Linked DNA regions of Homo sapiens: region 2 is linked to region 1. Evidence: fine-mapped expression QTL. Tissue or cell type: cerebellum. Region 1 holds a variant in brackets; the other region holds the start of a gene. All regions are shown on one strand. Distances are from middle to middle.

Region 1 (5,199 bases):
GAGGTCAGAGGCTGGCCCAGAGGCCCAGGGGCACAGGGTTAAAGTAGGGGGAAGAGGAAGTCCCTTGGGCAGAGCATGGGGGTCTGGAGGGGTTTCTGAGAGCCCTGGGTGGCTGTGCGCACCTGAGCCACTTTCCGGACCACGTCGCTGGCCACGCCCAGGCCCTGCACAAAGGAGCGAGCAGCCACGAAGGCACGGGTGGCCCGCAGGCGCAGCTCTCTCGGGGCCTCCCCGAAGGGCCGCAGCGCCTCGGCCTGCTTGCCCAGGCAGTCCAGGTAGTCATCAGGCAGCAGCAGCTGGGGGTGCAGCTGCTTGAAGAGGCGCTCGAGCAGGCGGGCCCAGAACTCGGCCAGCGTCTCCTCCAGGTGCAGGTTGGCACCGCGGTAGTACAGGCGCAGCTCTGAGTACAGGTCCCGGAAGGCCCTCGCGTTCTGCGTGTACAGCTCTCCGAAGGCGCCGGGGAAGGTGGCCTGCAGCGTCCGCTCCGAGTCGTTCAGCAGGTGCTGGAAGTGGTCTGCGCACAGGGAGGGGGCGTGATCGGGACCATGTTTCCCCCGCCGTGGCAGCTGGACCAGAGCAGGGGACTCAGCCCGGGAGACTCAGCTCTGAGGATACACTCTGAGGACCTCGGAGTCGGACGCCACACTGCAGCGGCTGTGGGCCCTGTGGGCATCCATGGGGCGCCCCGAGACCTCACCCCCTGGCCTGGGGAGCAGGGGCCCAGGTGGCAGGGGGTCCTCTCGGGTCTCAGGGCCTCTGACTGGGGCTCCAGTGGCAGTTTCTGAGCTGAGCCCTGGGCAGAACAGATGCTCTGTGACTCAGTGACCCCCTGAGAACACCCAGGGAGGGGCTGCTGGTGGAGATGGGGACTCACTGGGGTAAGAGGGGCAGGGCCGGTCTGTGCCCCCCTGCCAGCCGCTCCTTCTCTCCACTGGTCCCCACTTGTGCTCCCCGTGGCCCCAGCCGCCTGCCCTGCGAGTCTCCAGGGCTGCTGCCCCTCCCGCCACCCTGTCTCGGCTGCTCTCCTAGGCTTCTTGTCTTCTCTCAGCTTCTGCGATTTAGAAGCTTCAGCTGTGAGCACCCCGGGCCTGTCTGAGGGCTCTGGGGGGCCTCCTGCAGCCTAGAACCCCAGACATCTCCCCTGCTGGGCAGGGGGTGTGGAGGCACAGGCTCACCCTCAGACCTCCACATGTGCTGCAGGGGCTTTAGGGAAAAGCCCCCGTACCCCGGGCCTAGATGGGACCCTGGACTTCCCCATCCCATTTGGAAGTGGGACTTCCAGGTCTGTAACTGCTCAGAGCGTCCCTAGGGCTGTGGCCGGCTTTGCCCCACAGGTACCGGGGGCTCGATGGCCCACCACAAGGTGCTCCAGGGTAGCAGGGCAGAGGCTCTCCTTTGAGGCACGGGGGCCGTCAAGCCTGAGATCTCTGGATCAGCCCCCACGCTGACCCCTGGCAAGGCCTGGGGCTTCAGGGCTGGCAGGGCTACAGAGAGCTCCCAGGCCGCTGTGGGGAGGGTGGACGGGCCACACAGCTGTCCAGTGTCCACCTTGGGTCCTGGCGCCTGGAACGCCCTGGCCTGTCCCGGAAAGGGGCGGCTTGTGGTTCATGCATTAGCCCAGACACACCTAGAGGGCCATGGGCCAAATCCAGGTGCAGTCCCCAGCTCTACCTCCTGCCAGAACCCATTCAGCTGCTCCTGAAGGCTGGTGGGGGGGCGGACACAGGGCTCCAAATCCCTGAACACAGCAACCAGAGGTCCAGCCAGGCTCCCCTCCTACCGCCTCCCACTGGTTCCCACCAGCACTGCAGACAAAGACCCAGGGGCCCTCAGCTGCCCCGGAGGCTGGGAGGGGACAGCAGCTGCCATGGGCAGGGGTGGGAGGGGAGGACATAGGAGGTGGGGGTTGGACAAGACTCCCTGGGGTAGGGGCACAGGTGGGCCTTGGGCACATCACATAGTGGGTCATTTTTAATACAAATGTCCCCAAAGGGTGTCTGTGTTTTCAGGTCAAAGATAGGAGAGTTGAACAGGAAGGCTGGAGGCTTCCAGAGGGCAGCAGAGGGAGGGCGGCGGCAGGGCACTGACACGGGACAGGCCCCAGAGCAGGGCAGCGACACCAACCCCCTAAGAGCCAGGAGGAAGCAGGCGGGCAGGATGTCCCCAGGCCAGGAGGATGGTGTGATGGGCAAGGGTATTAGCAGGAGAGGGGAAGGGGCAGGGCTGGGTGGCACGCTGGGGCGGGAGCCAGGGCTCAGCGGCGCTGGGGAGAAACTGAGGCCCAGGATAGAGTGGAGGAGGTGAGCCGGGTCCCTACACATGGGACAGAACCAAGTGGCTCAGGAAGGCTCCTGACTCAGGGTGCAGGGGCTCGCTCCCCGGGTCCAGCTGGGCAGGAGGAAGGAGAGTCCCAGAGGGGCCACGCGCATCCCACGGGCCCCACACCAGCGGGGAGGGCTGAGCTCTGAGCATCGATGTCCAAGTCACAGAGAGGGAGCTTCTGACCCACTGCTACCCAGGTGTACGCCAACAGCTGAGGTCCC[A/G]CAGCCCTGTGGAAATGGCCTTGGGGGCTCCTGGGGACAGGCAGACTCTCCCGGGAGCCTGGGAGGCCACAGCAGGTGTCCAGGAGCCGGAGAAGCAGGAACGCTGAGACAAACCCCAGGGCCCCAGCAGCAGCTGCCGTCCCTCACAGCCACAATGGAGCCCTGCAGCCTCAGCGCTCCCTCCCTCCTGTCTGCCCAGGCTCACTGTCCCGGCGCCCTGGCTCCGCCCGGACACAGGGGCAGTACCTCAGCCCGGGCCGCCTCCCTCCACCAAGTCCTCGTGTTTCTGATCAGAGGTCACTTCATGGAGGACCTCCTGACCCCACACTGTCCCCCTGGGGGTGGCTGCCACTCTCTGCCCAGACACAAGGCGAGGCCCAGCCTGGGCCGAGGAGTACGTGGCTCTAATGCAGCAGCTGGCGGGGCCTCAAGGCCTGCAGGGGTCACTCCCCGCGGCCCCCAGACTCCTGCCCCGATATAAAGGGCTGAGTGGCGGCCACCCCAGGCAGGCCCTGCACTCTGCAGCCCTGTCCCCAGCCCCAGTCTCAGCCCTTGCACTGAGCTCCCTGGCTCCAGGCCACCTGGTCCCCAGGGGCAGTGGCCTGGGGCACTTGACGAGCTGCAGGCAGGATTTGGCCAAGGCCTGTCTCCCTGCAGGTGCTCAGGAGAATCTGCTGGTGACAGGAGCCTCTGAGGGGCTGATGGGATAGGCCCTCTGTCCCCAAATGTGCACTGGGAATGGGCTGTGCACACTCCCAGGGGGGTGTCAAACCCTGCAGATCCCTGCCTGAGGGCAGCCCCCAAATCCCAGCTGGGGCTTCAACCCAGCGCCCTAGCCCCAAAGCACTAACTCCCCCACCTCCTCCTGCCAATCCCCCACCCTTGGCATTGACACACCAGGCAAGGCCCAGTGTGCCCCTCCCCCGATGCACCGGCACCCTGCGGGCCCCGAGCGCCCGTGGGAGGCACTCACCATCGAAGCTGCGCAGCTGGGTGGCAAGCATGGCCTGCAGGACGCGGCTGCTGTCCCGGAGCGCGGTCTCCAGCTCGGCATGGCTGCGGTTGGCCAGGTTCTCCTCCATCTCGCTGGTGCAGCAGGTGTAGCCCTGGGGACAGATCCGCAGGTGCTCACCTGTGGGGAAAGGCCAGTGTGAGGGAGAGGGGCTGGGACAGCACTGGGAGCCAGGAGGGCACCCTCAGGCTCTCCTGGGCAGGATGGCAGACCCAGGGTGGAGCACAGCTCAGGGGTGGGCCAGCCTGGGGGGTGCCCTGGGTGAAGGCAGAAGTGGTCGGGGTGTGGAGGGAGGAAAAGGCCTGGCTTCGGTCCCGTAGCTTCCCACACGTGACACAAGAGCACGGCTGCCTCTACAGGGCAGGAGGCCCCTTGGGCAAGTCCTGCCCCCCAGCCTGCTGTCCCAGCAGCTGCAAGCAAAGAACTGGCCTCAGGTTCCTGTGTGCAAGTGTGGAGAAGGCTCCCAGGCCCGAAAGGCACCCCTTGCCTGGGCCCATGTCTGAGGATGGGGAAGGAGGAAGGAATCCAATCCCCCTCTCTTCCCACACCAGCCCTGGGGGGCACCAAGCTCCCACTGCAAGGACGGCAGATCCCACCAACAGTGGGCTGGTCAGAGGCAGTGGCCCTGCAGGACCCCAGGCACGAGTCTGGTATGGGGGCAGGTGTGCTCTGGTGCAGCTGGCAGGCCCCATGAAAGGGTCATTGGACCATGCCCCAAGCCCTGCAGGGTGCACCCTGTGCCTCCTGGTGTCCTTGTGGAGTCCCCTCCTCTGCAGCCTGCCATGAGCTACTCTGCTCCAGCGTCCGAGGCAGTGACAGCGGCACTGCCATCAGAGACAGCTTCACCTCCTTGTGGGGAGTGGGGACAGGACAGGCTTTGAGTCAGCTCTCAGCCCTGCTGTGCACACCTCAGGGCCCACCTGGAATGGGTGTGTGGCATCAGGAAAAACTGCATTTTTTAAAGGGTGTGCATCGCACTGTGATGAAGGCTGCCGCAATCCTCATTTTATTAACCAGAAAACCGGGGCTTACAGGGATGAGGTCTCGTCCCAGCTATACAGTGAGGGGGCAAGTGGTTCCGGCTGCCTAAGCTCAGGACTCCACACTGACGGGGCCACACTGTTCCTTCTGGGCCTCGTCCCCCGCCTCTAAGGCCCTCCTGGTGCTGGCCTAGGTCAGGCACAGTGGAGAGGTGGAAGCAGGAGCCTGGCTTGGTCAGAGGGGTGGGGTCAAGGGGGGGCGTTGTCAGCAGGAATTCCAGCAACTTTCCTCAGGACTGCCGCCTCAGGGGCCTGTCTCATCCTGTTCTGGGACCCTGGGCCAGGGTGGCTGGAATGCAGCAGGTCCTGCATTCTTTTACGCCCTCCTGAGGGTCAGCAGGAAGTGAAGGCCAGGCCAGGGAGGAGAGGCAGGAGAGGGAGCCAGGACCGGGACCGAGGGCGGGGTCAGCCCGGGCAGAGGCACCTGGCTCGAGGCTGTCCTGGGGGAGCTGGCAGCAGCTCCAGCCCTGCCTGGAGGTGGGAGCAGGGATCTGTAGCCCCACTGCAGGCAGGGCCTGGAGCAGCGCAGGCAGTGCCCTACCCGCTTACTGCAAGAGAAGTCACCCCTCAGGCCTGGGGTCCAGGAAGCCCTTACCCACTAGAG
Region 2 (5,213 bases), 25 kb after region 1:
GATGGCCAAACTCTGCCACTCTGTCTCTCTAACTGGCAACAGTGGCCTGTGGATGCAAGGAAGGTTAGGTTGGCTCCTAAGGATGCAACTGCCCAGAGGACATGGAGGTGCTAAGAAGGGCTGGGGGCTAATGGTTTCCAAAGGAGCAGGGTTCAAGACTCTGGGCTGGGAGGGGCAGCCACTCAGCCACTCTGCTACCCTGGTGCCTGGGGAGGGATTCACCAGGAAGGCCAGGGATGCCTCTTTATGTGTGAGTAGAGGGGCAGAGAACGAACCCAACTGTGCCGAGGGCCTTGTGCTGCCTGGCATCCAGGTGTGCCCCCTACCTGGGACAGACAGAGCCCAGTGGGGTGAGGGGGGCAGCCTGGAAATGACAGGGTTGCCTCTGCAGAGGCACAGGAAGGCCTGTCCTGGGGACTTTGGAGGGGTCCTTGCAAGAACCTCAGGCTGGTGGGGAGGGCATCGGGAGATCCGCCAAGGGACTGTCTGCGGGTTCTGTTCCTTCTGTGGGGGGCGGTCAGGGGGCCCTTACAAGAACCTCAGGCTGGGGGCATCGGGAGATCCACCAAGGGCAAGGGGCTGTCTGTGGGTTCTGTTCCTCCTGGAGGGGCAGGGGTCCAGAGCCCGACTGCCTCCTCCCACCACTCCGCCCCCCGCGGCAAGGCATGGCCACAGACCCCCCTCACCCAGATGCACGGATCCTTCTTGCTCAGAATCCCCAGGACCATGGGCATTTCTGCGCTGAGTCCCCATCTGAGTAGCCCTCCACCCGCACTCCCACTCCCCTGGTTTCAGAGGAGCCCCCCAGAGCAGGAACCTAGTCTGTTTTGTTCTTGCCCACTGGGTCCCTGGCACGCGGTACAGACCGAGGTTGGTTCCCACACGTGGAAAGGTGAAGCTTGGGTTCCAAGAGTTCCTTAGCACACGGAGCCCACCGTTCCACCCACCCGTACACTTCTGTCCCCAAAGCTCCTCCGGGACCACAGGGAGGGAAGAGGCAGAGCCGCAGGCGGCTGCAGGGCTTAGGGGGCGCCAAGAGGGCCGCTGTTCTTACAAAGAAATGACACGGCCCCTGGGCGGGATCCAACGCGCCGACCACCTGCAGCTGGACTCGCGGCACGAGGCTGCCCAAGCGCCAGGCGGGGGCCGGCGCGTACAAGTTCTTCGACAGGAATCTCTACGAGGCGGCGGCGTTCCGCCCGCGGATAAGTGCCCAGCTCCCTCCCCACCCCTCCGCACTACCCCCCGAGGGGGTCAGCTTATAAAACCCACCTAGGCTGCCTTTGCTGGAGACCCTACGAGAATCCCCGGGCAGGACCGGAGACGCCTCCCAGAGAGGTCTGTACAGAGCAGAAGGGGTCCGCGGCCACCGTCAGCGGCGCCCCGAAAGCCCGGCCACGCCGAGCCCCACAGCGCCCCGACAGCCGGCCCCGGGGCTGGGACTCCCGGCCTGCAGGCGCGCTGGGCCGAGCGGCGGGCAGAAGACGCCCAGCTCCAGCCGTGGCCCGGGAGGAGCGCCCCGAGCCCGCAGCCCGGCGAGATCAGCTCCGCAGGGAAGAAGCCGGCGTGCGGGGGGCGGGGAGGGGCGGAGGACGACCGAGCGGGGCGGAGGAGACCCTGGCGAGGGAGTGCGGCGCGGGGCTTGGAGGCGAGGGCCGTGGGGTTGCAGAGGAGCCGCAGCGCAGGGAGCCATTCGGGGCCCGGGCGGCGGGGCGCAGGCGGCAGGATCCCGCGCCGGGGGCGAGTAGCCGCGTCGGGAAGACCAGGGTCCGGAGCCCAAAGCCCGGCCAGGCCCGGGTTCCCGGCGCCGCGCCCTCACTCACCCGAGATCTCCGCCTGGGGCACGTCGCTCAGGCTGAAGCCCTTGGCTCCGTAGATCTGGCGGACCTCGCCGCAGCTCCGGCTCTTGCTGGCCGGGTCCCCGCGGGCGCAGGCGACCAGCGCTGCGGCCGCACATAGCAGCCACCAGCCTCGGGCCCGGAGCTCCATGGCGGGGCCGGCGGCGCCCCCGGCCACCCGCCCGCGCCTCTCTCGGATCCTGGCCGGGTCCTGCGCAGTTCCCGCCCGCGAAGGGCAGAGCCAAGGTCCCGGCGCGCGCGGCTCGCGGTCCAGAGGCGGCGGCGGCCGAGGAGGCGGAGACAACAAAAGCCGGCGGCGGCGGCGGCGCGGGGCGCGCGGGGTGCGAGGTCCGAACGCTCGCTCGGGCAGCCCAGAGCGCGGCGGGCTAGCGCAGTCCCGGCTCGGCGCCTCCCCCGCCGCCGGCCCGGCCCCTAGGCGGCCGCGGGAGAGGAGAGGGGCGGGGCAGGGTGGGAGCGCAGGGGTGGGGGAGGGACTGGGAGCACCGGGCGGGGCGGGGCGGGGCGCGGCGCGGGGGCGCGGGCCGGGGCGCACTGGGCGCTCCTCTGGCTCTTAGGGACCCAGAGGGCCCGCCTGGCCGCGCGACTCTATCGATCCCCGGCGGGAGGCGGCGGAGCCGGGCAGCGCGGGGCCGCGGCCGGGGTCCCCGAGGGCGGCCCCCCACGCCCAGCGCCCAGGGCGGTGGCACCACCTGTGGGGGCGGGGACGGGGGCGGAGGGTGCGCGAGGCAGGGCTTCCCCCGCCGGACGTGACATCACGCCTCCCGCGCCCCAATCAGGGGCCTCCCCGCCCCCAGCCGAAATCGGCATCCCGCTCCCCGCTCCCTCCCGCGCGCTCCGGCTTCCTGCACCCTGGCAGCGCGCCCCGAGAACGCTCTCCCGGCGCCTCCGTACCCTCCGCCCGCCGGCCGCGCCTCGAGCCGCCGCCCCTCTCCCCGCCTGCACCCCGCAGCGGCTCCCTCCCCGCGCCCTTCCAGCCGTCTCGCGCTGGGCTCCGGCTCGCACCGGGGGCTTTTGTGGTGTGGGGGCTGCACGCAGGAAACTCGCCAAGAAACTCGACCTCACCTCTCCCAGTCCCAGGGAGCGGCAACAGATGGCTTAATTGTTGGACCTTGACAGCTGTTTTGGGGGGGTGACCCTCCACGTTCTTTGGATGCTGGAGAAACCAAAGTGATGGGGCAGGGCCGGTCTACTGGTTTGGGCTGCTGGGTGGGGCCAGATGACCTCTGGAGAAGGGATAGGGTTGGAACCCGGCGACTAGTTAGGCCACTGGGGGAGGAGGGTGGAGTGAGCCGGAGCAGATGCCTCTTTGAAGAAGGCGGGAGGGCTGCCTGCACCTTGTATGGTAGGAGGGCGCGTGGCTTTAGCTGCACATGGGGAGTTGGGCTGGATGGGGTCTGTAGGGAGGGGGCGAGGACTGCGATGTTGGTGTCTGGAGGGCTTCACTCCTTCCTTGGCTCCCAGACCCCCCACCCCGGCCCCCTGTTCTCCACATGGTAAGGCCTGGCGGTGAAGCCAGGTGCCTGAGCTGCAGAATTGGGGGCAGGCATAGAGGTCAGTATCCTTGGCAGAGAACCTCAAGATGACCCCCATGTACAGCAAGGGTGTCCTGATTTCAGGGCCTGTGGCATCACCTGGAAGCTGCAGCGGGGTCCGTGGTGGGGGTGGTGGCAACATTCCCTACCCCTTCTGTGCCTGGGGCTCTCAGCCGCTGTGTGGGGCTGGAGCAGGAAGGTGGGGTGCCCTCCCCCTGGGCTCTTGGGGTTTCCTGCCCTGCCTCCCAGAGAAGGTTGCTCCTTCACCCAGAGACACTGAGTCATTGCTGGAGAGGGAGGCTTTGGGGACCCAATCCAAGTGTGCATTTCCCTGCCCTCCCCCACATACCCTCTGCTGCGTCACATTTTGTGACTCACAGACCCCTGTTCAGTACATGCTCCAGGCTTGCTCCTTCTTGCCTGGGCCTGGCGTGGCTGCCTGCACACCTTATCCAGCACGGTCAGGAGCCTGGGCCCACGATCCCGCTCTCTCTCTGTGTGGTCTCACGCACTGCGGGATCAGGCAGGGCTGCCTGGGCCTAGGAAGCTGGACTTGAGGTTAACCCGGCCTGAGGCTCTATAGTTACCCCGTCACTGTCTACGCCTCCTCTTAATCTGACCAGGTTGGGTTATTCCTCCAGGCAAGTCCTTCCTCCAGCCTAGTTCTGGGCCTCTGGATGGCAGTGTGGACAGCAGGGCTTAGAACGCGATGGTGGCAGCCTCTGCCTGGCCCTGGTGACCCCTGGGTGGCTTCATCTCCTAAGGAAGTCCTTACCACCATCGCAGGTCCTGGAATCATTCCCATTCCGCAGGCCAGGAGACCTGTAGCCAGGGCCTTCCCTGGAGAGGATGCACATGCCGCCGGGGGCATTGGAAGCAAAAGCCGTGTTTGCACCTGGGAGGAGCCGCAGGATCCTGAGCAGCTGCAGCTACCCCTGCTTCCCTCCTGGCAATGCTGCACACGCCCGCTGTCACCAGGGCAGGAGCCGCCAGGCTGCCCGTGCTAGTCGGGTGCAGGGTCCAGACTGGGACTCTGGGAGGATGGGCAAGGCTGATCAGCCCCCTCTTCCACCGCTGTCCCTGGGGCCGCTCCACACAGGACACGTGGATGGGTTTGAGGACATAGTTGATGCCTCGAATCCCAGCCACCACAGTGACCCTTGTGGCTCTGACCAAGACCACCCCCTCCTGCTTTGGTGTCTTTGCCTGGCTAGACAGTGGGGGCACACGTATGCGACACAAAGAAGGAATGAATGAGCAAGTGAGGAAACACCTGAGAGGAAAAGTTTGTCCCTGAGAGTGGGCGTGTGGCGCAGCCTGGACCTGCTCTTCCACAGGTGCAGTGAGGGCAGAGGACACTTAGCATTGTCTGACGGGCTGAGGCAGGCAGTGCCTGTTGGGCCAGGGCGTGGGGGCCTCCCTTCCATGCCCCCATCTTCTGTGGAGGACCCCAGGTCCTGGAGGGCGTGTACTGCTGGCTTAGGGCCCACTCCTGCCTCTGCCTAGGGAGGGTGGGGGTCTGCGGGATGCTGAGCCTGGTCTCTGCTCAGAAGACACAGGGAGCGCCGGGGGGCCCGCAGCTCCCAGCCGTTCGGACGGCAGGTCTGCCCAGAAATTATCCTACTTTTGCTCCGTGGAACCCTCGTGAGTGTGCACGCCCTTGCCCGCTGCCATGGACGGACAGCTTCCCTTTCTGTTTGGTTTCAGGGATTGTCTTTCGGAGACTCCAAAAGTAAGTTTCCAAACAGACTGAGCGATTGTTGTCGCTGCCATCCATGGCTGCCTTCTTGTGAATGTCACTGCCTGTAGCATCCCTACCTAC

Evidence for each region. PIP is the estimated chance that this variant, and not a neighbour inherited with it, causes the effect.
Region 2: it holds the start of GPC1, and the variant in region 1 is fine-mapped to the expression of GPC1 in cerebellum (GTEx, PIP 0.95).

The regions. Positions count from the first base shown.
Region 1 is chr2:240,457,506-240,462,704 of GRCh38, reverse strand. GPC1 (glypican 1) reads right to left here. Exons shown (of 9, transcript NM_002081.3): 2 at 3,517-3,675; 3 at 123-514. Among named protein-coding and RNA genes, the nearest start is that of GPC1-AS1, 3.4 kb to the right of the region's middle. RefSeq lists enhancers at 2,849-3,499, 3,500-4,149, 4,150-4,801. The variant A/G (reference allele first, on the strand shown) is at 2,544.
Region 2 is chr2:240,432,695-240,437,907 of GRCh38, reverse strand. It overlaps GPC1 (glypican 1), which reads right to left and starts at 2,245. Exons shown (of 9, transcript NM_002081.3): 1 at 1,824-2,245. The coding sequence starts at 1,989. RefSeq lists enhancers at 1-244, 296-872, 2,606-3,182, 3,582-3,876 and silencers at 1,997-2,056, 2,117-2,776.